Linked DNA regions of Homo sapiens. The main gene of each other region encodes a partner of the protein of the gene in region 4 in a complex. Each region holds a gene or a part of one and is shown on either strand. Other genes may lie near its edges. The genes, in order: TAF1A, TAF1C, POLR1B and UBTF.

What was found.
Region 1: UBTF (region 4) and TAF1A share a complex: the UniProt entries of both Homo sapiens proteins name them as parts of the pol I pre-initiation complex.
Region 2: UBTF (region 4) and TAF1C share a complex: the UniProt entries of both Homo sapiens proteins name them as parts of the pol I pre-initiation complex.
Region 3: UBTF (region 4) and POLR1B share a complex: the UniProt entries of both Homo sapiens proteins name them as parts of the pol I pre-initiation complex.

The regions. Positions count from the first base shown.
Region 1 is NC_000001.11:222,572,934-222,579,961, forward strand, and holds part of TAF1A (TATA box-binding protein-associated factor RNA polymerase I subunit A), read right to left. Parts: intron 6,958-7,028; exon of another isoform or gene 6,940-6,957; coding exon 6,826-6,939; intron 4,711-6,825; coding exon 4,512-4,710; intron 1-4,511. UniProt on the Homo sapiens protein: Component of the transcription factor SL1/TIF-IB complex, which is involved in the assembly of the PIC (pre-initiation complex) during RNA polymerase I-dependent transcription.
Region 2 is NC_000016.10:84,184,034-84,191,971, forward strand, and holds the start of TAF1C (TATA box-binding protein-associated factor RNA polymerase I subunit C), read right to left. Parts: upstream 3,025-7,938; 5' UTR 2,868-3,024; intron 1,551-2,867; exon of another isoform or gene 1,449-1,550; coding exon of another isoform or gene 1,447-1,448; intron 1,028-1,446; 5' UTR 957-1,027; coding exon of another isoform or gene 956-956; coding exon 818-955; intron 1-817. Other genes in the region: ADAD2 (adenosine deaminase domain-containing protein 2), read left to right, coding at 7,198-7,615. UniProt on the Homo sapiens protein: Component of the transcription factor SL1/TIF-IB complex, which is involved in the assembly of the PIC (pre-initiation complex) during RNA polymerase I-dependent transcription.
Region 3 is NC_000002.12:112,552,442-112,559,469, reverse strand, and holds part of POLR1B (DNA-directed RNA polymerase I subunit RPA2), read right to left. Parts: intron 6,826-7,028; coding exon 6,654-6,825; intron 5,932-6,653; exon of another isoform or gene 5,780-5,931; intron 4,947-5,779; exon of another isoform or gene 4,891-4,946; intron 1,561-4,890; coding exon 1,389-1,560; intron 178-1,388; coding exon 1-177. UniProt on the Homo sapiens protein: Catalytic core component of RNA polymerase I (Pol I), a DNA-dependent RNA polymerase which synthesizes ribosomal RNA precursors using the four ribonucleoside triphosphates as substrates.
Region 4 is NC_000017.11:44,204,529-44,209,692, forward strand, and holds the end of UBTF (nucleolar transcription factor 1), read right to left. Parts: coding exon 5,117-5,164; intron 5,014-5,116; coding exon 4,824-5,013; intron 3,384-4,823; coding exon 3,336-3,383; intron 3,312-3,335; exon of another isoform or gene 3,243-3,311; coding exon 3,171-3,242; intron 3,070-3,170; coding exon 2,926-3,069; intron 2,840-2,925; coding exon 2,714-2,839; 3' UTR 512-2,713; downstream 1-511. UniProt on the Homo sapiens protein: Recognizes the ribosomal RNA gene promoter and activates transcription mediated by RNA polymerase I (Pol I) through cooperative interactions with the transcription factor SL1/TIF-IB complex.

The DNA.
Region 1 (7,028 bases), on a different chromosome or scaffold from region 4:
TCAAATGAAACACTTTTATGCTTCAAAGGACACCATCAAGATAGTGAAAAGAAGGCCAGGCACAGTGGCTCACATCTGTAATTCCAACACTTTGGGAGGCTGAGGTGGGCAGATCACTTGAGGTCAGGAGTTCGAGACCAGCCTGGCCAACATGGTGAAACCCCATTTCTACTAAAAACACAAAAATTAGCTGGGCGTGGTGGCAGGCACCTCTAATCCCACCTACTCGGGAGGCTGAGGCAGGAGAATCACTTGAACCTGGGAGCCAGAGGTTGCAGTGAGCTGAGATTGCGCCACTTGCACTCCTGCCTCGGTGACAGAGTGAGACTCCGTCTCAAAAAATAATAATAGTAAAATAAAATAAAAAGATAGTGAAAACACACAGAAAAGGTGAAAATATTTCCAAGTCATGAATCTGATATATCTGATAAGAGAATTCTGTCTAGAACAACTAAGTACTCTTACAAAACTCAATAATCTAAAAGCAGGTAATTAAAATATGAGCAAAAGATCTGAATGAAAATTTCTCCAAAAATGATATACAAATGGCCCATAAGCACATGAAAAGATGCTCAACATCATTAACACCCAGGAAAATGCAAATCAAAACTACAAGATGCCATTTCACACCCACCAGGATGACTATAATAGAAAAGACAGATAATGGCAAGTGTTGGTGAGGATGTGGAGAAATTTGTACCCTCATACACCGCTACTGGGGATGTAAAATAGTGCAATTGCTTTGGAAAACAGTCCAGTGGTTCTTAAAAAGGATAAACTTAGAGTTATATGACCCAGCAATTTCTCTCTTAGGTATATACCCAAGAGAAATAAAAACACATGTCCATACAAAAACTTGTACATAAATGTTCACAGCAATGTTATTCAAAATAGGCAAAAGTAGAAACAATCTAATTGTTCATCAACTGATGAATGGATACCTAAGATATAGTATATACAAACAATGGAATTCTATTCAGTAATAGAAATGAAGTACCATTACATGCTATAACATTAAAAACATTATGCTTTCTTTGTCAAAATTTTCTGTTAGGGAAAAAAAAAATTATGCTAAGTAAAAGAAGACCACATACTGTATGATTCCATTTGTATGAAATGTCCAGAACAGGCAAATCTCTAGAGGCAGAAAGCAGATTAGTGGTTGCCTAGGACTGGAGGGGTGGGGAGAAATGGGAGAGCACAGGGTTTCTTTTTAGGGTCATGAAAATATTCTAATATTGTACTGATGGTTACAACTCTATGAATATACTAAAAACCACTGAGTTGTATATTTTAAGTGGGTGAATTTGTATGGTATGTGAATTATATCTTAATTCTCAATAAAGCTATAAAGAAAAAAAACCATGAGAGATCACTACACCCAACAAATTGGCTGATATGAAAACTCTGACAATAACAAATGTTGAGGAGAATACAAACAAAAGAAAACTCTAATCAGATTGTCGGTAAAGTACAAATTGGTAACCTCTTTGGAAAGAGTTTAGTATATTATGTACCAAAGTTAAAGACGCACAAAACATATTCTATGACAATTCTACTCCTAGAAATGCATACTTATGTGCACCGGTATACAGAAATTAATAGGGGTTCATTTCAAAGCAGAATTATTTATAATAGCCCAAAATAGTAACCTAAATGGCCATCAGTAATAGAAGGAATAGTGTGACTATCATAAAATATTTTATAACCATAAAAAATGAATAAATTAGAGCTACATCCAATAACATGTATTATCTTAAAACTGATTTTGAACAAAATATGCAAGGCCTAAAAGAATATATACAGTACAACTCCAAATACAGCATTCAGATATAGGCAAAACTAAATCACATTGTTTACAAATGTATACATGAGTGGAAAGAGTATAAAGAAAAACCAGTGAGTGATTAACATAAGTCAGGACAGGGATTTTCTTGAGAGAGAATGGGAGGAAATGCAGTCAGGAAGGCACACAGGGAGAATTTTAGGTTAGGGTGACAGTATTTTGTGTTTCTTAATCTGGGTGGTGGTTATGTGAATGTCCATTTTAAATTTATTCATTATATCTCACATTTGTTTTATATGCTTTTTCTGTATCTATTTCTCAATCTTAAAGGTTTACAAAGAAAGTTACTCAAGTCTTTCAAAAATAGCTATTAGAAGCACAAGATACTGCAAACCAAACAGAGGCACTGGTATCTTTTTCCCAGTGGATCAGTTAAATACATATCAATATGAACTTAGAAATGAGGTGATAGGAAAGTAGGTAAGACATTATATGGAAAAAAATTTTTTTTAAAAAAAGGGCTGGGCATGGTGGTTCACGCCTGTAATCCTAGCAGTTTGGAAGGCTGAGGCAGGAGGATTGCTTGAGCCCAGGGGTTCAAGACCAGCCTAAGCAACACAGTAAGACCCCATCTTCACAAAAAAAAAAATTGATGGTGCACACCTGTAGTCCCAAGTCCTTGGGAGGCTGAGGTGGGAGGATCACTTGAGCCCAGGAGGTCGAGGCTGCAATGAGCCGTGATCACACCACTGCACTCCAGCCTGACAGCAAGAGACTCCAGACTGAGACAGCAAGACTCTGCCTCAAAGAGAAAGAGACAGATCCCTGAGTATAAATTGGGTTTGAATTTATTATAGAAGGAGGTTCCTAGTCACCAAGTGCATCAATCCCAACCAAGACAGAGCCACATAACAGCAAGAAAGTCCCAAGCTGACTCCAAGTACAAGTTCACATGGTAAGTGCCCATGAGTTTGGTTATAAAGAACTAGTCCTAACTTTTTTTCTCGTTAAATAGACACTTGAGGTGAATGATCATCTAAGAGCTCTACATATTATCCCATCATCATCTATTGTTGCTACAGAACTGTCAGCTACGGAAAGGTACTGAACCATCTATCCACAAGAGTAACATTACAAATGCGATGTTCCAACAGCTTTAATCATCAGATATTTGCTTGAGTTTTACCTAACCATGTATAAGAAGAAAAGTAAATACTGACTTTAAAACTAACCTAATCAATGAGTAAGTTTTGAAAAAGAACTATTACACCAGAAAATATGACAAGACTAACAAAAGAAATAGAGGAATATTACATCAAACATTGATTAGTCTAAACGGGAAGATATCTGGACTAATAAAATACACATGAAAAAACTTAGCACAATTAGAAAGCAAGAGATGAATAGCCAAATGATTCAGGCTGAACATGCAGCTGATATATTAAGTTTAAGGTGTAAGAATGAGGGTTTGGGACAGCGATCCAATGAGTCTTGAAGAATAGAGAGCATTCTAGAAGAGGAGACTCTACAAAGGCCTCACAAGATTATCATGATGAAGAGAGCATTTCAGAGTATCTTGAAAGAAGAGGGAAGGGAATCGAAATTAGTGAAACTACATGCCCAGAGACCAAGGAAATACCACTTATCACATAAGGATAATAAGGAAATACTGCTTACCACATAAGAAGTGATAAATAGTAGGACTAAGATATGGAGGAGGATGAAAACAGAAAGGGGTTAATCATAGAGATTAGGTTAATCTCGAGGATTATCCCCTACGGAGAAACTATACAAGGCAAGCGAATTGCAAAGAATCATACAGTTCCAGTGAATGCAAATCTGGGCATAAATGAAGATGATAACACCATTGAAGGTTAAGAGAAGGGGAATCAGTTTGAGAACTGAATGGTCAACTTCTGGTATAGTCAATAAATCAAGAAAATTGTCCATTATAACCTTTACACAAAAATGAAATGACCATCTTGACCTATTCTTTAAACATATTATTCTGAGAAATAACATTACAAAGTAAATTAAACTCCATTCTAGGCACACAGGAAGAAATGTTTATTATATGTAATAATGACTGCTGAAGAAAATCTGTAGCCTTTCTTAGAAATTGGCAAAGACTTTCTTCTTGACCAAACTCCAGCCAGGCTCCTCTGAGCTCTCTTCTGGACTAGGCCTCAAACTTGGCCAATAAATACTTGAACATAGTTTCTAGAACACTAACATAGTTTCTAACAGCTCAAGGCCACATCCCCAGGATGACCCCAGCCCCTCTTGAAATGTTTGCCTGGGAAAACTCCAGAAGAATTTACTGGTGGTTCTGCCTTCTGCTTTTTAAGCTCCCCACCCCCACCCTTTACAACCCCAAGTCACCTCCATAGAAATTGGAATGGAGTTTAGCTCTTCCTCCTGTCAGTAGTTACTGAATCAAACCTGTCTCCACTGCTGTGTCTGGCTGTGTTTATCCTGGACTAAATCACATTCAAAACAGCAATGAACCTAAAATGATCATGAACTTAATTATGAACCATCTAATTTATGATTGAAGCTTTTTATATATCAGAAATATTATAAAGGATCAAGAATTTTAAATCCATAAAAAGTCTGTTCTCCATAATATCTGGATGAAGTCAATAGGGAAATTACTAGATTACTCCTTAAGATCCCTCTGCCCCTCAGTCTCATCATAAGAAAAAGTTTACCTGTATTCACTTACCAAGCTTTGACAATTCCATCTTCTTTTCAGACCAGGTATAATACTGTAAAAGCCCTTTATAGGCCTGAATAAGGTTGATTAATATTTCCCGGGAAGACGTATTTTCACCATGTCTCCATGTCTCTGCCTCACTCAGATTTCTCTTAGCATCTTTAAGCATTCCATGATGCAGAAGGTATAATGCATGTTGTAAGGAGATCTGCAAAAATAATAAGGGTACACCGCCATTTAAGCCATTAGATAACCATTAGTCAAAAAGCTCAGTAAATATATAATACATGCTGGGCAAAGACCTTGGTAGGATACAAATAACTTGACATGGAAAATTTTGATGTTGGGTACAATCTGGCAAAGAAGTAAGACATAGGAAACAATTAACACTATGTAAATATGAGCTAAATTATGTAAACTTACAAACAAAAGACAGTGTGATATAGTGGGGAAAAAAGAGGTTTTGAAGATGAGTGTCTTGGTTCATACACCACTTAAAAACTAAATAAACCTGGGTAAATTATTCACTCTTTGTGAGTCTCATTTGTTTTACGGAACATTACTGCCCCTTCAGAAGGGTGTTTTCAAGATTAAATGAGATAATACTTGCAAATCACCTAATAGTTTGGCTCATAGCAGACATTCAACAAATATTACTATTTTATACATGTTATATAAGCTTAGAGAAAATATCTTAATAAGGGATGCTGAAGAATGGCTTCAGTTCAGATGGAGAGGAAAGTGTATCCCTGATACAGGAGAAGCAGGAAGAAAAATTATACAAAGAATGAGTATTACAAAAAGGGAAGACATTAAAGAGGAGAATAATGAGAACTACAATTAATCATATGGGTAGAGCCAAAGTACTGCAATAAGTTGTCAACTGGCCTCTCCATTCCTGCCTCCCTACAATCCATCTTTCAAGTGGCTACCAAAGAAATTTCATCTTGTTAGTCATTTGCATAAACTCCTTCAATGGCTCCCACTGACTACAGAATTAAAATCCAAGTTCCCTGGGTATGGCACACAGGGCCCAGCCTACTTCCCCCAACTTCTACCCAAGTGATTTTTAGAGTAACTAAATTATTGGATGTAGGGCTTTTAAACTCTTTATAACCCCCGCCATGCAGGGCTGCCCTTTCCCCTAATCTGCCTAGTGAATGGCCAATTGCTTTTGCAAACTTATCTCAAGTATCACTTTCATTCTTTTCCTGATTCCCCTACCCATTAAATCCCAACCCTCTCTAGTTCCAGAGAACTGGCCATTTTCTCCTTTATCTTCTCACCATTTGTTACATTTCTACTATGGTACCCATAACACTTCATTCCATTTACATGATCTTCCTCTACTATAAGAACCATGTCTAGCATATTGCCTGGTAAGCGGCAATAAGTGTTTTTAAAATTATTAACAACAAAAAAAATTGTATTATCTATCCTAATTATCACTCTCAGACTCTTATTGAGAAATGAGGTTCCCTTTCAGTTTCTTTACTTCAACTGAGTAGATTCTATGAGCCAAAAGGGACCTAACCAACAGTTTACTCTTCACACTCCCTCCCTAATTAAATGGCTATCCAGTTTAGACCTGAAAAAAGAGACGCAGAGCACACATCAGGGTAGGCCATTCCCATTTCCAATTGTTTAGTTAGAAAGCTTTTTCTTAAGTAGAACCGTAAACTGCCCCCATTTAATTTCCACTCACAGTATACCTGGTCTACCAGAGAACAAAATCGTAAGAGCATCTGGCACACAAATAGACACTCAAAACATTTTTTTAAAGCAAAGCATTTACAAACCTGTATTGAAAAAGTGCTCTTTGAGACAAAAACATAGAGAGGGAGATACAATATTTTGAAAATGTCTCAATCTTTTTGGATAAGACTTTTACAAAAGGATATATGAACTTGGAGGTGAAGATTCCACCTAAACATTAGAAGTATTAAAATATTTTCACGTATTTAAATTCCCAACTTGTTTAGCTCTTTCCTTTTCTAAACACCAACTCTAAGCTCAAGTGACTTCAGCAAACATTTTAGAATCTGGCCCATCATCATACCACTGCAATCTCTGAATAACTGGTTTTGGCAGCCAGAAGAAATATACAAAGAAAAGGAATTTTTAGTCAGAGAACACAGGAGGCGCCTGAAAATCAAGAAGTAAATGGTTCTCATAACGCTCTTTTCTTTCAGTTTCTCTTATTTATCCAGAATGTCTTATCCTTGTCCCACATTTTTTAGGTTAACTACCTTATCACTGACACAAGCAATTAGAAAAAAAAAAGAATACTGCAAGTGTAAATTCACAAAGCCCATATTCTCACCTTTAAATAATTCATGACGCCAATATTTTTCATCCGGTTAGCAAAAGTATTGAAACTCTCCATGTTGCTTTTGGGATGATAAAATAGAATTTCACTTCCGAGCTTCCAAATAATCTGTCAAAGCAGAAATTACTGCCAAAATGTAAAATTTTTGCCTTAACCAATTTCTGTCTAAGATATTGTTTTCCTGATTACAACATTAA
Region 2 (7,938 bases), on a different chromosome or scaffold from region 4:
CCACCTGTGCTGGCTCTCAAAGAAGGAAGCCCCTCATGCCACCAGTGGCTGGTCCACATCTCACGTAACCTCACTTCCATTCAGGAGACCTTGCAGTCACTCTGGGAGCCCGGCAGGCGGCTCCACCTCCCTTTGCTGGGCTGGCCTGGGATGTTTCGGCCCAGACATTCAGGGGACAAAAGAGCTAGGAAACCAGACTCCCAGAGGAGCCCCAATTTGACGCCAGACCCTCCCTCGTAAGGATGCCATCCCTGACCCCCGTTCCCCAAGCCTCTGCTCCACTGTCTCTCTTTTTATTTGCTCACCCACTTGCCTCTGCCAGGCTTCATTCCCAGACAGGGTGTTTCCAAGGGGAACTAGGCGGCTGAGGATTCCAAGCAAAGGGCCAGTGTCCCTCCAGAGGCAGCAGAAACCCTGCAGGTCTATCCTCCCCTCTCCCAACCCTACTATGCTGTTTCAGCATCCTTCTGCTTTCATTCCAAGCTCTGATCACATTTTGTAAACACCTTATCCATTGGATAAAGTTCACTTGTTTATTCTCGCTCAACTCAGCTCTCCGTTCCAGGAAGGGAGGGGTCAACCGACTGATTCAGGCAGCATTCTCACGGTCTCATAAGGGACCCGGCATAGTGGGGGCATCCGTCTAGGGATGGCAGGGTAGCCCATGTACCCCAGAGGAGGTGGCAGAGCCTGTGTCTCAGCAGACTCGTGTGAATGCCACCACTCTGTGGCCTTGTCAACTGATGTGAATGTGAGACGGGGGACCCAGGGAAGGGATGTCCCTGGAGCTGCCAGGGCCCCCTGCCTGCATCCTCACCTCTGAGTTCTGGGGCTGGGCCTCTGGCAGAGTCAGTGCGTCTCGCCAGCTGCACATGAAAGAGAGGTCAGGGACGTCGCTCAGACCAAGGGGGCCGGTCAGAAACAATGCAGGGCGGAGGGAGCTGGGGAAGTCCATCCTGGAAACAAGGACCAAGCACCACACTGGCCACCTCGAGAGACTGGAAGCTGGTAAGGGGCGCCAGAGTTCCTGAGGAGTGAAAAGTGCACTACGGGAAGCATATGTTCTTTGAGGAAGCAGATAACAAAAAACAAATATGTAGCCCAAGGCCAAGCAGTAGTGAGAACTGTATTAAAGCCAACCACCCGTCCAGGAGAAGGGGATCTGGTAGTGGGCTGAGGGCGTGGTTTCAGCAAAGCCAGCCAGGAAAAGCCTCGTTGAGAAGGTGGCGTTTGAGCACAGCCTGAACCTAGTGAAGGAGAGAACCATGTACGCAACTGGGAAGAGGGTTCCAGGCCGAACGGTCAACAACTGTGAAAATCCTAGAGCAGTGAAGTGTGTGAGAAAATGAGGCAGCCAGAGTGAGCGAGGTGGAGAGCGGTGGAGATGGAGTCAGAAAGACGGCAAGGGGCAGCCTCTCTCCCGGCTCGTAAGTACCGTCATCATACATTTACAGACTACACCCCCAAGACGCTCAAGTTACTCCACAGCCAGGGACTGCATCTGAGCATCGTCTTCCTACTGTCAAGCACAGTGCCTCCCAGAAAATGCACTAGGGGTTGAAAAAAATAAATTTCTATCACAAGGGGCCGGGCGCGGTGGCTCACGCCGGTAATCCTAGTACTTTGGGAGGCCGAGGCAGGCGGATCACCTGAGGTCGGGAGTTCGAGACTGGCCTGACCAATGTGGAGAAACCCGGTCTCTACTAAAAATACAAAATTAGCCGGGCGTGGTGACGCATGCCTGTAATCCCAGCTACTCGGGAGGCTGAGGCAGGAGAATTCCTTGAAGCCGGGAGGCGGAGGTTGCGGTGAGCTGAGATCGCGCCATTGCACTGTAGCCTGGGCAACAAGAGCGAAACTCCATCTCAAGAAAAAAAAAAATTACATCACAAGGCTTTGGTAAATACAGTCCTCTAGAAGTATGAGCAGCCATAGCATCCCTCCTTTTTAATTAACAAAAATAACAGGGGCAAAAATAACAGCAGCGCTCGCTGACCAAGCGCCAGCATCTATCTGCCAGGCACATGCTAAATGCTGCACTCTTCTATCGCCGTCCCTGTTAACAGAGTTCAGGAAACGAAGGCTCAGCAAGAACTTTAGTCCAACAGCTCTTAGCTGCCACAGCCAAGACTTGATTCCCATCCGATTCAGAGGCAGAGCTCCGAACCAGTGCTCTCGCATGCACCGAAATGCAAACGCTAGCATTAGAGTCTCGCTATACAAAAATCTTTTCCCTTTGGCCGGGTGCGGTGGCTCCCGCCTGCAATCCCAGCACTTTGGGAGGCCAAGGCGGGCGGATCACCTGAGGCCAGAAGTTTGAGACCAGTCCGGCCAATACAGTGAAACCCTGTCAATACTAAAAATACAAAAATTAGCCGGGCGTGGTGGTGTACACCTGTAATCGCAACTACCGAGGAGGCTGGGCACGAAAATCGCTTGAATCTGGGAGGCAGAGGTTGCAGTGAGCCAAGATCATGCCACAGCACTCCAGCCTGGGTGACAGAGCAAGGTTCTATCTCAAAAATAAAATAGAAACAAAAATATTTTCTCTTGGAACCGCATAGCCTGAAACGATCCTAGACAGGCGGAGGGCGCTGGTGGAGAGCACGACCCCACAAAAGCCCTCAGACAAGGCAGCCTCGACTTCCCCGGCCGGCTTCCCGCCCTCGCTGCGGGCTCTCCAGGACCCTTTAGACCTCCAAGGCTACAGAACTCAGTCGGATCCGCAATAACGACAGGCCGGGGACTGCGAAACGTGAGCCTGCCGCGGGGACTGGGGATTGGGGGCGTCCCTCCCCTCCTACATCTGCGGGTCCGCTCCTCGAACACGCGCAGTCCGCGCGGAGGGGGCGCATGCGTGCACTTACGTGACCCCGGCCTCGTCGTGGTCGTCTGGAAAATGGGCCTCGGCGTGATGCTCGCCGGACCCTGGCACCACGAGGGAAATCTCAAGTAGAACCCCAGCTTTGGCACTCGGGACGGGTCAGCCCCGCCGCAGCTACCCACGGTCTTCCGGTTTGGACCGGAAGTGCCTCCTGCGGAGGCAGGAAGTCCCGCCTCCCAGCCAGGCCTCTTAGGGTCCTGGCGCGCCCCCTCCCGGGAGGAGAGGGAACGGGCGTGCAGGCGGCGCGTGGGCAGCGGAAATAAAGCTCCCTTGAGTCCCAATAGTGGAGGCCGGGTGGACTTAGGTTCGAATCCCACATCTACTTCACCAATTTCCTCAGAGTTGTATTAAATTAATCATTTAACGAACTCCCACAGAACACCTACTATAAGCCAGACCTGTATTGGTCAGTAGGTATCCTACTGATTGTCCTTAAATCCCAAGAAGCGGGCTTTACAAATAAGGGTACAAATACCTACTAAGAGTGAAGCTTTTCCAGGGGTGGTCAGGCAGGGAGAGCTTTAGGCAGTGGTCTTCAAACTCTAGCTAGCGTGCGTCAGCAGTAGCACCTGGGGGGCTAGTTAAAACACAGTCTCCAATTCGGTGAGTCTGGGGTGGGACCTGATGATTTGCCTAAGTTCCCAGGTGATGCTGAAACTGCTTATCTGGGGGCCATGCTTTAAGAACCACTGTCCAGTCATGAACCTTACCGTTATCCTAACATAGTACTTCTCAAACTTCAGTGAGCCTTAGAACCACCTGGGGGGCTTGTTACAAGTTTGCTAGGCTCCACCCTACCTCTGCCCCCCGAGTTGCTGATTCAGTAGATCTGGGATGTGGCCCAAGAGTCTGCATTTCTAGCAAGTTCCCAGATGATGCTGGTCCAGGGGCCATACTTTGAGAACCGTTGCTTTAAAGAATCAATTTCCAAATTCTCAGCTGTCATCTATGTCTTTATTTATTTTTTTGAGATGGAGGCTAGAGTGCAGTGGCACGATCTTGGCACACTGCAACCTCCGCCTCTTGGGTTCAAGCAATTCTTCTGCCTCAGCCTCCCGAGTAGCTGGGATTACAGGCCTGCGCCACCATGCCCGGCTAATTTTTGTATTTTTAGTAGAGACGGGGTTTCACCATGTTGGTCAGGCTGAGTCTTGAACTCCTGACCTCAAGTGATCCGCCTGCCTAGGCCTCCCAAATTGCTGGGATTACAGGATGAGCCACCACGCCTGGCCTATATTGTTTTTATCTGGAAGTTTTTACCTGGACTAAAAGTGCCAGCAGGGCTGTGTTCCTTTTGAGAGGCTCTAAGGAAGAGTCCACTATCTTGTCTTTTCTGGCTTCTGGAAGCTGCCTGCATTCCTTGGCTCATGACCCCTTTCCATCTTCAAAGCCAGCAATGCCAGTCGGATTCTTCTCATGAGGCCATCTCTCTGGTTTTTACTCTTCTGTCTCCCTCTTTCCCATGTAAGGACCCATGTGATTATAGTAGGCCCGCCCAGGTAATCCAGGATAATCTCCCTATTTTATTTGTTTTATTTATTTTTTTGAGACAGGGTCTCACTCTGTCGCCCAGGCTAGGGTGCAGTGGTACCATCATGGCTCATTGCAGCCTCAACTTCCCAGGCTGAGATGATTCTCCCACCTCAGTCTCTCGAGTAGCTGGGATTACATGCAAGCACCACCATGCCTGGCTAATTTTCTTTTTTTTTTTTTATTTTGAGACAGAGTTTCACTCTGTCACCCAGGCTGGAGTGCAGTGGCGTGATCTTGGCTCACTACAACCTCCACCTTCCAGGTTCAAACGATTTTCCTGCCTCAGCCTCCCGAGTAGCTGAGACTACAGGTGCCTGCCACCACACCCAGCTAATTTTTGTATTTGTAGTAGGGACGGGGTTTCACCATATTGGCCAGGCTGGTCTTGAACTCCTGACCATGTGATCCACCCGCCTTGGCCTCCCAAAGTGCTGGGATTACAGGCATGAGCCACCACGCCCGGCCTAATTTTTGTAGTTTTTGTAGAGATGGGATTTCATCATGTTGCCCAAGTTGGTCTCTAACTCCTGGGCTCAAGCTACCTTCCCACCTGGGCCTCCCAAAGTGCTGGGGTTACAGGTGAGAGCCCTATTTTAAAGGCAGCTGATTAGCAACCTTACTTCCACCTGCAACCTTAATGCCCCCTTGCCAAATAATATACTCATAGGTTCTGGGGATTAGGCTGTAGACATCTTTGGGGGAACCATTATTTTGCCTACCACACTAATATTCTACATTACCCTTGTAAAACGCCTATCCAGCTTTGGCACTGCGAGGCCAGTTCCATTTCTTCCTTTCCTCCTTTCTCTGAATAAGCCATTATCAATTTGCTTTTGTAACTGACATATACTCAACATGCAGTAAAGCACACGAGTCTTAAATGTACAGCTCATTGAATTTTTATTCATACATAGAAACCCACATGAACACCACCCAGATCAAGACAGAGAACATTTCTATCACTCAAGAAAGTTCCAGCCAGGCACAGTGGCTCATGCCTATAATTCCAGCACTTTGGGAGGCCGAGGTGGGAGGGTTGCTTGAGTCCAGGAGTTCAAGACCAGACTGGTCAACAGAGCAAAACCCCCATCTCTACAAAATTTTTTTCTAAAAAGAAAATTCCCTGGTGCCACTTCCCAGTCAATACTTCCTTCAAGAAGGAACCACTATTTGGACTCTTATCACCACAGATTAGTTTTGCCAGTTCAAGAACTTTACATAAGTGGAATCATGGAGAGGATGTGTCTGGCTTCTTCCACGCCATGTGCCTAATAGATTCACCTGTGTTGTGTACGCAGCTGTTGTTTCCTTTTTAAATTAGTGAGTCGTGTTCCATTGTATGAATATACCATTGATTTGTTCACGCAACCTCCTGTTGGTGAGCGTTTGGGGCGTTACTGGGTTTGATGACTTTGTGGAAGTCTCTCTGTGGATATGTGCAGCCCTCAGTCCATTTCTGGACATCTGCTGTGCTGTCCCTTCACTCTCCTGGGCCTCATCCCACTCTCTGGGCTGCACACACACACAAAATGGAATTGTTCTTCCTGATGTCAATTCTTGACATGTTGGGGAGGCTGACTACCCAGCCCACCACACCTGCTTCTTCCAAGTCAAAGGTTCTGGGAGGACTCCACCACCTGGTCCTCATATGCCCCAGCATCCTCACTGTCACAATCCTGGAGAGAGCTGCCAGGCCCAGCTTCAGCAGCAGCAGCAGCAAGCACTGTGACAAATCTTACAGACACTGGTCATGCTTTCCCAAGTTAGTGGCTACTGTAAGACTCCGTTAAACTTGCAGCCTCCTTCAAGCAAATACGCGTTGCATCACAGTAAGCCTTGTGTAAATTGTCTTCATCCCTGTCTTTATCTTATTTTTCCTATGTCTCTTGATCTCTAGCTCTTCACTTTAAACAATTGTTATCTTGTCTTATTTGTATGAATTAACTCAAAATCCCTTCTTAGGGGGGAAAAAGGCAGAGTATCAAATGGCTATTTTCTTAAAAAAAATTATTTATTTATTTTTTGAGGCAGAGTCTCGCTCTGTTGCCCAGGCTGGAGTGCAGTGGCGCAATCTCAGTTCACTGCAGCCTCTTCCTCCCAGGTTCAAGCGATTCTCCTGCCTCAGCCTCCTGAGTAGCTGGGACTACAGGTGTGCGCCACCACGCCCACCTACATTTTGCATCAAATGGCTAATTCTTGGCTGGGGAACACTTATGTTTGGCTTCAGAAAGGCCTGCAGTGAAATTTTATATCCAATGATCCTGCTGACAGTGTGAACCCCTAATTCCTGTGTTGAAGTCTCCAGGCTCAGCCAGTGAAGCAGCTGAGCAGCCTGTGATGTGGAGGTGCCTAGGGGCCTAGGGCAGGAGCTAGAGTGTGAAACTGGACCTGACGCCCCCAGATGCTCCTCCCCCGCCTTGCAGGCTCCGCGACCACCCACGGTTAAAGAAGCAGCTGCTAGAGCAACCCCTCACCCACCCACCGGAACTTCCCTCCAGGCCATGGGACGTTGGTCTCAGCCGGAACTTCCGTCCAGGCAGTGGGACCTTGGCCTCAGCCATAAGCATCCAAGCCGCCGTCGTTGGGAGACTGGCCTTCCCATTGGCAGGGTGCACTGTCCATCACAGATCTCAGGGCTCTCATTGGCCATCGTATGGCAGGGGTGGAGCTCACCACGCTTCGTCCGCGTGCTCCCCACGTGAAGGCACCCGCCCTGCGCGTGTGAAAGGGCGAGAGCAGCGCGAGATAGGGCCTAGCGCCTCAGATCTTCGTTGGCGGCCATGGCTTCGGCTTCTCAGGGCGCTGACGACGACGGCAGTCGTAGGAAGCCCCGCCTGGCTGCATCGTTGCAGATCAGCCCCCAGCCCCGCCCCTGGCGACCGCTACCCGCCCAGGCCCAAAGTGCCTGGGGGCCCGCGCCCGCGCCCGCGACGTATCGCGCGGAGGGCGGGTGGCCCCAGGTCTCGGTGTTGAGGGACAGTGGGCCTGGGGCAGGGGCCGGAGTCGGGGAACTGGGGGCAGCCCGGGCGTGGGAAAACTTGGGGGAACAGATGGGGAAGGCCCCGAGGGTCCCTGTGCCCCCAGCAGGGCTCAGCCTGCCGCTCAAAGACCCACCTGCCAGCCAGGCCGTGTCCTTGCTCACGGAGTACGCGGCCAGCCTGGGCATCTTCCTGCTCTTCCGGGAGGACCAGCCACCAGGTGAGGCCGGGCCGGGGCATGGCTGTGCCAGAGGGCAGAGCCACGGAGGGCTGGGTCCCAGGACGTGGGGAGCAGGGGGTCTGGGGAAGGTGGACCTTGGTCCCTATGCTCAGAGACACCGCCGGAGCAGGACCTGGCCTGAGCTTGGGACCTTGGGGTGGACCCTGCTGTGAGCAGCGATCTCCAAGGATCACCAGCCACACCAGATGCTCAACTGTGAAAGAGTCATGGCAGGTGAACATTCTTCCCACCTGACTTCCAGGGAGGTTAAGGCCCCCTGGTATTTCTGTATACGTTTTTAGAGCCACTTACATGCAATTTAA
Region 3 (7,028 bases), on a different chromosome or scaffold from region 4:
GGGTATGCACGGGACAAAGGAAGCCCCAGGACTCTGGCAGCAGCCTGCGTACTGTGGTGGTCCTCATCTTGGCAAAATCAGCCCCTCTGTGCACGCAGCGGAAATGGGAGAGGTAGCGTATGAAGTTCAGCTTGTCAGCCACAACACAAAGTCCAGAATCTTGTAGGAGGCCAAGACCTTAATAAAACAAAAGTCATTCAAAAATGGGCCAATCTTTTGAAAAATGGAAATTGTTGAGGCTTTATGACGACAAAACCTCAGAGCACTCTACAGATCATAGAATGAATTATTACAACATTTATTCTCCTAGCTCTGATGAGTGTAAAGAGTTCACAAAAAAATATGTAAAATAATCCCCAGATTTCACAAACTGTATTAGCCCCAACTAGTTCCCTGTCTCCTCTATGACCTCCTTTGTGGGTGAACATTAAATGAGTTAATAAAATAGCAAGTAGTTAAATTCATCTGAGAGAGTCAGATAATAGACAAGCAAGAAAGCAGGCTAATGAAAGAATCGGCAACAGTAACATGGGTTTAAAAAAAAAAAAAAAAGGCGGGGCACAGTGGTTCATGCTATAATCCCAGCACTTTGGGAGGCCAAGGTGGGTGGTTCACCAGAGCTCAAGAGTTCCAGACCAGCCTCAGCAGCATAGCGAAACCCCATCTCTACAAAAAATACAAAAATTAGCCAGGTGTTGTGGCTTATGCCTGTAGTCACAGCTACTCGTGGGGCTGACGTCGGAGGATCACCTGAGCCTGGGAAGTCAAGGCTGCAGTGAGCCATGATCCTGCCACTGCACTTTAGACTGGGTGACAGAGTGAGACCCTGACTCAAAAAAGAAAAAAAAAAAATTCTGAATTCCCAATTACCACTTTTTAAGTTTCTAGGGTCATTCTCTTTTTTGTTGAGACAGGGTCTCACTCTGTCACCAGGCTGGAGTACAGTGGTGCAATCACAGCTCACTGCAGCCTTGACCTCCTAGGATCAAGTGACCCTCCTACCTTGGTCTCCCAAAGTGTTGGGATTACAGGCATGAGCCACCACACCTGGCCTCTCAGGTCACTCTGAGGCAAGGCAAATGGTTTAGAGATGGGCATGTACAGCAACCCATCTAGAGTTCCTGTTAGGTAAGCCTTCCTCAGAGGTCTAAGTGGCCTTTCATTTTCTAGAAGGAAGCAGAGAAAATGTATTCAGTTATCTGAATTAAATTTTAGCTATACAGACACCTTGTCTAAAGCCCTTTAGACCAATAGTTGTCGAAGTCATAGTTATGAGAAATTTACTTTTTTCGTGGGGTTTGCTTTTAAAAAGAACTCTCAGGGACAGGCAAATCTACACTAAGCAACTAATTTGAAAAACATAACTAAAACGATCGATTTAATTTTACCTGTTTTAGAACGCAGATTCCCAGTAGCAAAAAGGTATTCAAATGGTTTTGTAAGGTCTATGCCCATTGTAAAAATCCTCATCAAATTGTCAGTGTTCATGGAAACACTGGTCTTCTGAGCCTTCTTATCAAAAGCTATTTTAATAGACACTAACCAACCTTCCAGTTTTTCCTGAAATAAGGAAAAAAAATTAATATAAAATAGTATGTGAGCCAGGTGTGGTGGCTCACATCTATAATCCCAGGATTGGGTGGATCGCTTGAGACCAAGAGTTCAACATGAGACTGGGCAAAATGGTGAAACAAAACCCTGTCTACAAAAAAATTAGCCAGAGGGGGTGGGGTGAGGGGGTGGGGCGTGCCTGTAGTTCCAGCTACTTGGGAGGCTGAGGCGGAAGGATCGCTTGAGTCCAGGAGCCTAAGGCTTCAGTGAGCCATGACTGTGCCACTGCACTCCAGCCTGGGAAACAGGGCAAGACCCTATTCTCAATAAAATAAAATAGTATGTGTTTCAATTATCACAAACTTCATATTTATTCCCATGTAATCTGTACGATCTTTAACAAACGTCTACTAACATACATCAAAACCAAAAACCTGAAAGAGGGCTTTTCAGGTGCAGAAAGGATAGCTCTTCAATGTGATGCCCTCCTTCACCCATTATACTTGTTATACATCTAAAACCAATCACACGAACTACACAGTCCATCTTAATCTATGCTGCCAACACTAAGTGAAAAGCCTAAAGCAGCCTGCAATTCCAAAATTACAGCTAGACTGGAGGAATGAGTTCTGGTATTCTGCAGCAATGTAGGTTGAATACAGTTAACTATATTTGTTGTATATTTTTTCACTGCAGCCTCAACCTCCTGGGTTCAAGGGATTCTCCTGCCTTAACCTCCTAAGTAGGTGGGACCATAGGTATGTGCCACCATGCCTGGCTAATTTTTAAATTTTTTTTGTAGAGATGGGGGTCTCACTTTGTTGCCTAGGCTGGTCTCAAACTCCTGGGCTCAAGCAATCCTCTTGCCTCAGCTTCCAAAGTGCTGGGATTACAGGCGTGAGCCACCACACCCAGCCTTATTGTATATTTTCAAAAAGCTAGAAGAGGGGATTTCGAATGTTCACAACACAAAAAAATGATACATGTTTGAGGTGATGAATGTGTTAATTACTCTGATTTGATCATTATACATTATTGACATATATGGAAAAATCACTGTATACCCGATAAATATGTACAGTTATTACATGTCAACTAAAAATAAAAGAAAAAAAGACTATACACCATCAGCGCTTTCTATGGGTGGTTCAGAAACCACTGAAAATACCTAAGAGAATGTTTGAGATAGGTTCTCTCCTATATTTGATATTTGGAAGAAAACGTGGAAGATGTACATAGGTCACTCATGTATACCTTTTCCAGCAGGCCCCTGAGTCAACACATTAGCCATTGACTATTGATAATCCACCTCTTCAAACTATCAGTGTTTGAACACTCACACTTGGAAGACCTAACTATTCTTCCAGAAGACAGCACTGGAAGTGACACATTTCATTTCTGCATATTCTCTGGCACTGACACTGCATTTAATATCACTGTGGTGCAGTAATATTAAATTTTTAGTACTTGGAAGGAATAAATTTTGGAGAGGTGTGGGAAGAAGGAATATATTTTATAAAATGTTACAATGAATCTCACAACTGACTACACACTAGTAGGATTTGTAAGTACACTGCTAAAAATCTGTAATGTACAGATAAGGGAATTACCAGGGAGTGAAGGAAGCTGTTAGCTCACCCAACAAGGGTATTAATGTAGGTTTGGACTTTATCAAGTGAAACTAGAGAATCAAGTTTGAGTAGAAGAGCCTGGCATCACTGCTCCACCTCTGCTGGTTGCTGTTTAGATTCCTTTCTTGAGCCTACATCTTCCTGTGTCATAAATGTTTTTATCAGGTGTACACTGAACACTTCATCTTCACAGTCAAGATGGAATAAGAAGCCCTGGATCTTGACAACTGATTTGTTTGTGTTCTTCTCCCTTTTTTTTCATAACTATGTCTACTTCCTTATTTGGGTTTAAAATCAAAACCAGAAAGGCTAACTGAAGTGTTTTATGGTTAATCTACAATAATACAGAAAATATGGTTGCTATTTTTCAATTTTATATTGCTTATTTCAATGTAAATACAATGTGAATTTTTAACAGTCTATAATTCATCTTATGTCATGGTTATGTATCTTCTGAAGATTGTTTTTATGCTCCAAACTCAAAGGTTTAAAAGCTTTAACGTAGCTGGTAAGGAAATCAGATACTCGGCAATGAATTCTCTGAAAAAGCCCCAATTTTCCCTTGGTTTCTCTTGTTGCTGACACAGGTCACCTTAGTAACGCCTTGCTACAGAAGACTCATTTCTTTTTTCTGTTGAGACAGGGTCTTGCTCTGTCACTTAGGCTGGAGTGCACTGGCGTGATCACAGCACACTGCATCCTCCGCCGCCTGGGCTCAGGCAATCCTCTTACCTCAGCCTGCTGAGTAGCTGGGACCACAGGTGTGGCCCACCAGGCCTGGCTAAATTTTTTTAAAATTATTTGTAGAGACGAAGTTTTGTCTCTGGGCTGTTTGCCCAGATTGATCTCAAACTCCTGGGCTCAAGTGATCCTCCCACCCCGGCCTCCCAAAGTGCTGGGATTACAGGTGTGAGCCACCGCACCAGGTGTTTTTTTCTTTTTTCTTTTTGAGATAAGGTCTTGCTCTTTTGCCCAGGCTAGAGTGCAGTGGCAAAATCACCCCTTATTGCAGCCTTGACCTCCTGGGCTCAGGGATCCCACCTCAGCCTCCCAAGTGGCTGGGACCACAGTCATGTACCACCATGCCCAGCTAACAGGTTTTTTTTGGAGACAGGGTCTTGCTCTGTCGCCCAGGCTGGAGTGCAGTGGCGTGATCTCAACTCACTGTAACCTCCGTCTCCCAGGCTCATGCAACTCTCCTACCTCAGCCTCCTGAGTAGCTGGAATTGCTGCAGCATGCCAGCATGCCCAGCTAATTTTTATATTTTTTGTAGAGACAGGGTTTTGCAATGTTGCCCAGGCTAGTCTTGAACTCCTGAGATCAGAAGATCCACCCACCTTGGCATCTCAAAGTGCTGGGATTATAGGCGTGAGCCACCACACCCAGCCACTGCTAATAGTTTTTATTATTTCTGTAGCGATCTCTCTGTGCTGTCCAGGCTGGTCTCAAACTCCTTGGGCTCAAGTTACCCTTCTGCCTCAGCCTCCCAAAGTGCTGGGATTACAGGCATGAGCCACTGTACTCCTGGTCTCATTTCTTTTTCTTTTCTTTTTTTTCCTAATTAGGAATTGATGTGGAATAAAGACACATTTATAAGTGTGGAATACAATGAGCCCACCATGCTTCACTTTAAGTAGATGGGAAATGTAAATTAACCTTTACTTGAAAGGTTAATTTAATAACATTAAATTAATAAGAGAAAACTTACGCTGCCTGCTTTCAATTTTTGTCAGGAAAATTGTAGGCTGCTGAAATTTTTCAATCTAATTTTATGGACAGAGCAAACAGAAACAAAGATTATTACCTTTCGGGAAGAATGTAAATAAGAATTACTACCTAGATAAGAAATTAGAAGGCCGGGTGTGGTAGCTCACGCCTGTAATCCTAGCACTTTGGGAGGCCAAGGTGGGTGGCTCACTTGAGGTCAGGAGTTCGAGACCAGCCTGGCCAACATGGTGAAATCCCGTCTCTACTAAAAATAAAAAAATTCGCCGGGCATGGTGGCACGCGCCTGTAATCCTAGATACCCGGGAGGCTGAGGCAGGAGAATTGTTTGAACCCGGGAGGTGGAGGTTGCAGTGAGCTGAGATCGTAGCACTGCACTCCAGCCTGGGAGACAGAGCAAGACTCTGTCTCAAAATAAAATAAAATAAATTAGAAGCCAGGCACAGTGGCTCACACCTGTAATCCCAGCACTTTGGGAGGCTGAGGCAGGTGGATCACCTGAGGTCAGGAGTTCGAGACCAGCCTGGCTGAAATGGTGAAACCCCACCTCTACTAAAAATATATTAACTCTTAGATTACATCTTTTTGAGGATAAGATGCAAAATATAAAATGCCACTGAATCAATATTCTTATGAAATCATTTTTGTGCCATGCCAACTTTCTCTCTATATACATCTACAGTCAAATTTCACTACTCACAGTAGCTATGTTCTAATGAACACTGAATTAACACATATAAAACCACTACTCCTGGGGAAAAATACAGGGCTGGGTTCCTGCAAGTCTCTGGTCATAACATTCTGGTCAACGGATCAATATACAATCTTGTTTAATGTCAGCTTTTGTTGAAAGGCACCTTATTTAACATACCTTGTTAATTCATTAACACTGAACACTAGACAGCGCTTCAGTGCTATGCTTGGGGACCATTATAAACAGCAAAAACTGGCCAGGCTCAGTGGCTCATGTCTCCAATCCTATCACTTTGGGAGGCTGAAACAGGAGGATCACATGAGCCCAGGAGTTTGAGACCAGCCTGTACAACATAGTGGGACCCTGTTTCTACAAAAAAAATTAAAAATTAGCCGGGTGTGGTGGTGAATGTCTATAGTCCCAGCTGCTCAGGAGGCTGAGGTGGGAGGATTGCTTGAGCCTGGGAGGTTGAGGCTGAGACCCTGTCTCAAAAAAAAACAAAAAAGTCACCAATAAGAAGCACGACAATGTGAAAAACATAGCACCAAATGCACCTCAAAAAGGACCCTCTTTATAGTATGAGCTGAAACCGGAAAGCAGAGCATCGCCCTGCCCCGCCTCAGCTGTAACATTTGCCTCAGGAGACCCAAATTCTTCACTGCTCTGCTCATGTATGTGAATAATCATGAAAGCACTGAGCACTGACATTAGGGTTACAAATAAATTTTAGCCAGTGAGTGAATTCACAAATACAGAATCTACAAATAATGAGGATCAACCATATGTATAAATACAGGCCATTTGCTTTTTATCATTAACACTGTGACCAAGATTTGATGTGATCTTTACATAAAAATATTAAGCAAATTTCCAAACCTGGTGTAAGCCAGGATTTCTGATCCCCTTACTGCTAAATGAACAAACAAAAAAGAGACCACACAAAATGCCAAAACTAGAAACTATAAACATGCAGAAAACAGTGCTGCTGGACAAAGTCACGCCATTCCACAAGTGGTACCACTGGCCAAGGGTGGACATAGCATGCATTTACCTTCAGGAACATAAGGAAGAGCTGACCCGGTGTGAGGACTTCCTGGTTCACCAAACTATCAGGATTGTCCTCCATGCACTCTCCTTTGGCTAAAGCAAAGAGCTTTCGCGTCATGAGACAAAGCATATAAAACTTTTCAGTATTGGATTTCAAGTGGATACAGATGCACTGGCTGTGAAAACAGAAAAAAAAAAAAGCTTAAAACAATTCAGTTGGTAATACTACTTAATATTCTATTAACCAAGATCCCCAACTCATGCTTACTTAACTTTAATTAAATAAAATTAAGCATTCAGTTTTTGAGCTACACTGGCCACATTTGAAGTGCTTATCATGTGACTGGTGGCTATGCACTGGACAGCACCAGTATGGAGC
Region 4 (5,164 bases):
TCTTCCCTTAATCTCAGAGAGTGAGTCATCTCAGCCCAGCCCAGCCTGCTTCCCATCAGAGGCCTAGATGGTCCTAGGAAAGTCATCCTTAACCCTTAACCTTTAACCTGGGATGGAGCTGAAGGCTCAAAGTGAGAGCGTGCTCCCTCAACTCCCCACGATAAGCCCTACACTAGGAAGGCTTGCATGCCCAGGGCGAACCCTTGACCCTAGTAGCTCATCACCTCCAATTCCCCAAGACCATGTACTTTGGGTGAAAATGCATTTGTTCTCCAACTTCTCAGAATCTTTAGTGGTCTCACAACCCAAGGTGAACAAATGGAATTGAGAAAAGGGCAAGAACAGTAGCACAGAACAATGTGAAGGTAGGTTGCCTATGGAATCTTTAGGGAAGAGGAAGATAGTTCTAGGAAGAAAAGGCAAATTGGCTTCAAGCATTTTTATAGATCAAACCTGTTGGGTCACCCCTGTGAACCTTCATTGATTCCAGTGACCAGACAGCAGTCAAACCTTTGTTTTTCACTTTATTATACAAAAAAGGGAAAACAAAACTTCCACAGTTGGCTTTAAGCATAGGCAGACACCTCTAAGCCACTCCCTCCCACCTCCCATGATACAAATTCAAGTTGTGGTGGTTGTTGAATCCTACAAAACACTCCTTAAATATTAGAAAAGAAGTTGGGGGTGGGGATGGGGGTCTTCCCACCCCAGCCATCCCATCCCAGTGCCAAAATGCACTCAAGAGTGACCTCTTACAGCACCAACACCCCCACCCTGACAGTCCTGTTTGTACTGTAAGAATTTTTCAATTTTTAAAACAGGAAAGAAAAAGTGCCCCATTCAAAGTTGTTTTTAAATGAAAATACATTCCACTGAAACACAACAGTGTAGGGGCATCCAAATAGGAAACTGGGGTTCTTTGCAGGGCTCTTGGGAAGAAATAGAACCTATAAACCCCTGTACTTAATTCCAGGATTAGGACAAAGGAAGGGGAATGGGAGTGGGGAGTGTCCCCCCCAGGCCTCCCCACCCCCAGCACCAAGGTCCAAGGCAAAGCAGAGACTGTCTGCCTTCCTTTGGGAGAGGGACCCACCAGCCTCTCTGGGACCAGGGCCCTTCACCGTTCTTGCTCCACCTCCGCGGCAGAGTTCCCGCTCTTCCCCCATTCCTTGGCTTTCATTCAGAGGGGGAAGGTGGAAAAGCACCAAGCCCCAATTTAATAGGTCAGTGACATGACCATAAAAAAGAACCCCCCAAATTTAGTCAACAAAAAAATAAGAACTACAGAGATAAGGTGGCTTGGCTTATTAAGAGTCAAGGAATCAAGGTACCAAAAAATACGGGAGATGGCTGGGAAGAGTTAGAGACAGCTGCAGATGCAGCTTTTGCAGACTTCTTGCCCAGCTGTGGGGTTGGGGGAGGAGGGAGCAGACCTGAGAAATTAAAGGAAATAGGGGGTGGTGGGAGGATTCAAGGAAGGCTGGAGGGATGTGTAAGTTAGGAGCTCCCAGCACATTTCTTGAAGCCCAGGTTCTGAGCCTGGGGTGGCCAGGCTTGGCCTCTCAGATGAACAGGGGAGACCTTTTCCATCAAATACAAGCTTTAAGCTTCACACCATCTTGCCTGCCTTTCCGCCTTCCTGCTGGACAATGGAGACCAGCAGCTCGGATGCATGTGACTCTGGCAGAGGGAGCCTGGTCTGGGAAGCATCCGAGAATGGCTTCAGCACACTCCCCCTAATGGAATCAGAGACTGGGCAAAACAGAGGATGTGGAGAACGGGGCAGCCTCAGCCTGCTCCCACCAGGGTCAACATCTCCCGGCCCTCACCGACCCTTTTTCCAGATTCACAACAAACTGATGTGGGCTCTAGGACAGACCCCTTTACACACACACACACACACTCACACTCTTTTGCACACATCCACAGCTGCACCCATGCTATGTACAGGAACACACATACACATACTCTCTTCCACATACATCAAGACCATTTTTAAAAGGTTCCAAATCTACCCCTAAACCCTCCCTCTCCCAGAAATGACAACAGAGACGGCAGCCGAGATCGGTAGGAAACGTCTCGTTGACAGCTCAGAGCTTAAAAAAAAATATATACACATATATAAAAAACACTTCTGCCCCCTCCCCCATGAACGGGTCCAGGCAGCTCCTTCCTGCAGGGGGCAGGGGAGAGGGCCACCAGGGCAGTGCCTGTTTTCTTGAAGGCACCGACCCTCCTCCTCCCCATGTTCCCTGCCTCCAGTTCCAATGCAGGGGTCCAGGTGGCAGGCCCCTCTGGGAAGGAATGGGTCTTCCCCAAGCTTCCACCCCACCTTGGATTGGGCCGCAGGTGTGGAGGGCCTCATCAAACTCTTTGGGACCCCCCACCCCCACTCTCCGGTCCATTGTCCATGCCGGAACCGCAAGTGCAGAAGTGGGTGGGGTGGGCCAGGCTGGTCCGGTGCTGGCTTAGTCTGATAGTTGCTGTCCCTGGAGGAGGACCCCCAAGGGCTGATGTCTCTGAGGCTGCAGAGTCCTGGCCTGGGCTCCTCCAGCCCCCTACCCCCACCGTATTTTTTTTTTTTTTTAAAGAAAGAAAGAAAGTGGGGGAGGCCAGGGGGGCAAGGGACAGAACATGGGGGAGAAACAAAGGTGGTCAGTTGGGGAGGGGAGCTCCTGGGCTCTCCCTGGCTGCCCTGGGGTGGGGCTGAGCCTCAGTTGGAGTCAGAGTCTGAGGAGTCCCCTGAGGAGGAGGAGCTGGAGCTGCTGCCCTCGGACTCATTATCTTCATCCTCATCGTCATCCTCGTCGTCGTCTTCGTCCTCGTCATCCTCTTCATTCTGGGGGGTGAGAAAGGATGTGGAGTCACCAGGTGGCCCTCCTGGCAGGACTCCCCTCCCCTCCCACTGTGCCCTGTCTGCCCCACCTCATCCCCATCCTCGCTCTCGTCCTCGCTGCTGGACTCAGAGGAGTCGCCGCCATCTTCAGAGGAGTCCCCATTCTCATCATCTTCCTCTTCTTCATCCTCGTCCTCGTCATCCTCATCCTCTTCATCATCCTCCTCGGACTCCTTGGAGGGATGGAGGCACATCAGTGGTCTCTGGTCTCTGCCCAACCATTCCAGGCAGTGCCCCCCGCCCCACGCCCCTGCATCTGGGAGGGGCTCCTTACCGACTTGGACTGCAGAGTAGTCCGGCTGGATTTGGGGTTTGGGCCTCGCAGCTTGGTCATGCTCTTACGTTTCTGCAGGATGGGGACACAAAGGTGGCAGCCATGAGTTCGACACCCCTGAATTCCCCCACCCCTACCCCACTGCTGCTCTGCTCCCAGACTCACATTGGAGATGTACTCTTTATATGCTGCACGGTCCTGGGGAGACAGGCTCTGGGGGAGACAGAAGCGGCAAGGGTTGGAACATAGCCAACTACTGCTGACTGAGCATGCTGGCCCAGTGCTAGGCAGTGGGCTGAGCATTTATATATCATCACCCCATCTTACCCCTCCCAGGCTCCCTAGATTTTGGGTCTCTGCAGAGAGCCCCTGGGATCTGAGAACACAGCTCTAATTTTTTTTTTTTTTTTTTTTTTTTTTTTGAAACAGGGTCTTGCTCTGTCACCCAGGCTGGAGTGCAGTGGCACAATCTCAGCTCACTGCAGCCTTGACCTTCCCAGGCTCAAGTGATCCTTCCAACTCAGCCTCCAGAGTAGCTGGGACTACAGGCATGTGCCACCACACCATGCTACCTTATAATTTTTTGTAGAGACAGCAATCTCACTATGTTGCCCAGGATGGTCTTGAACTCCTGGCCTCAAGTGATCCTTCATACCTTGGGCTCCCAAAGTGCTAGGATTACAGGCGTGAGCCACTGCGCTGGCCCAAACCCTAGTATTTCTGCTTCTGATACCCAGAGTCCTTCTCTAAACCACTAAGACTATTGGTTTTCACATTTTCCCTGTTGCTTTTCGCAAATGGAAGCTCCTATCAGAGTCTTCCTCACTCCAAAGAAGTGCCCCCGTGATGAGTCAGCCTGGCATCATCAACCACACCCCAACACCAAACCCTTGAGCCATCGATGAGGCAGTGGGGCTCACCAAACTCCTGAAACAGCAAATCCCCACAGTCTTCCTGGGTCCTTGGCCAACCTGCCTTGGTGAGTGGGAAGGACACAGGTGATTCTCTCCACTTTACAGATCTGACTACTCAACCAAAGCACAGAGGGGAAGCACAAAGGCCAGGAGTCTAGGAGAGGTCCCGTGGTCCCAGATGGGGGAGGAAAAGGCAGTCTGATTTGGATTCTTCTACTTACTGTGTGACCTTGGGCAAGTTACTTAACCTCTCTGAGCCTTGGTTTCCTTATTTTTAAAAGGGTGATAGTGGCTGCGGACGGTGGCTCAAGCCTGTAGTCCCAGTGCTTTGGGAGGCCGAGGTGGGCGGATCACATGAGGTCAGGAGTTCGAGACCAGCCTGCCCATCTCTACTAAAAATACAAAAATTAGCCAGGTGTGGTGGTACATGTCTGTAGCCCCAGCTACTCTGGAGGCTGTGGAAGGAGAATCGCTTGAACCTGGGAGGTGGAGGTTGCAGTGAGCCGAGACTACACCACTGTACTCCAGCCTGGGCAGGAGAGCAAGACTGTCTCAAAAAATAAAAAAAAAAATAAAAATAAAAGGGTGATAGTGACCGTTATCCTGAAGGATTGCGAGGGCATGGAATGAAATCATGAATGAGACCAGCCAGCACAAGTGGGTGGATGGGCCAGGCTAGGATGGTGCTGGCTTAGTCTGATGCCTCTCTGTTCCTTCCAAGGGTCCCTTGCCCTCTCACCTTAACCCAGAGGTCCAGGTGCACCTTGTACTGCTTTTGCTGCTCCTCGGCCAGCTTTTTGTAGTGCTCCTTCTGGCTCTGGGAGATGCGCTGCCAGCGACTGCCGATCTCCACCATGCGCTCCTTCAGCGGCAGGTGGTTCAGCTCCCCATTGGACAGCAGCTCCTGGGAGAACTTCTGGTAACCGTTCCTGGGAGGTGGGTTGGTAGAAGGAGGGTCAGGACCCCAACAAAGCAGCCATCCAGCCCTGACCCTCCCCGACCTCCAGGGCAGACTCCAACCCCCAGGCTCACATGGGAGGCTTCTTGGGTTCTCCCTGGAATTTCATCTTCTTGGAAGAA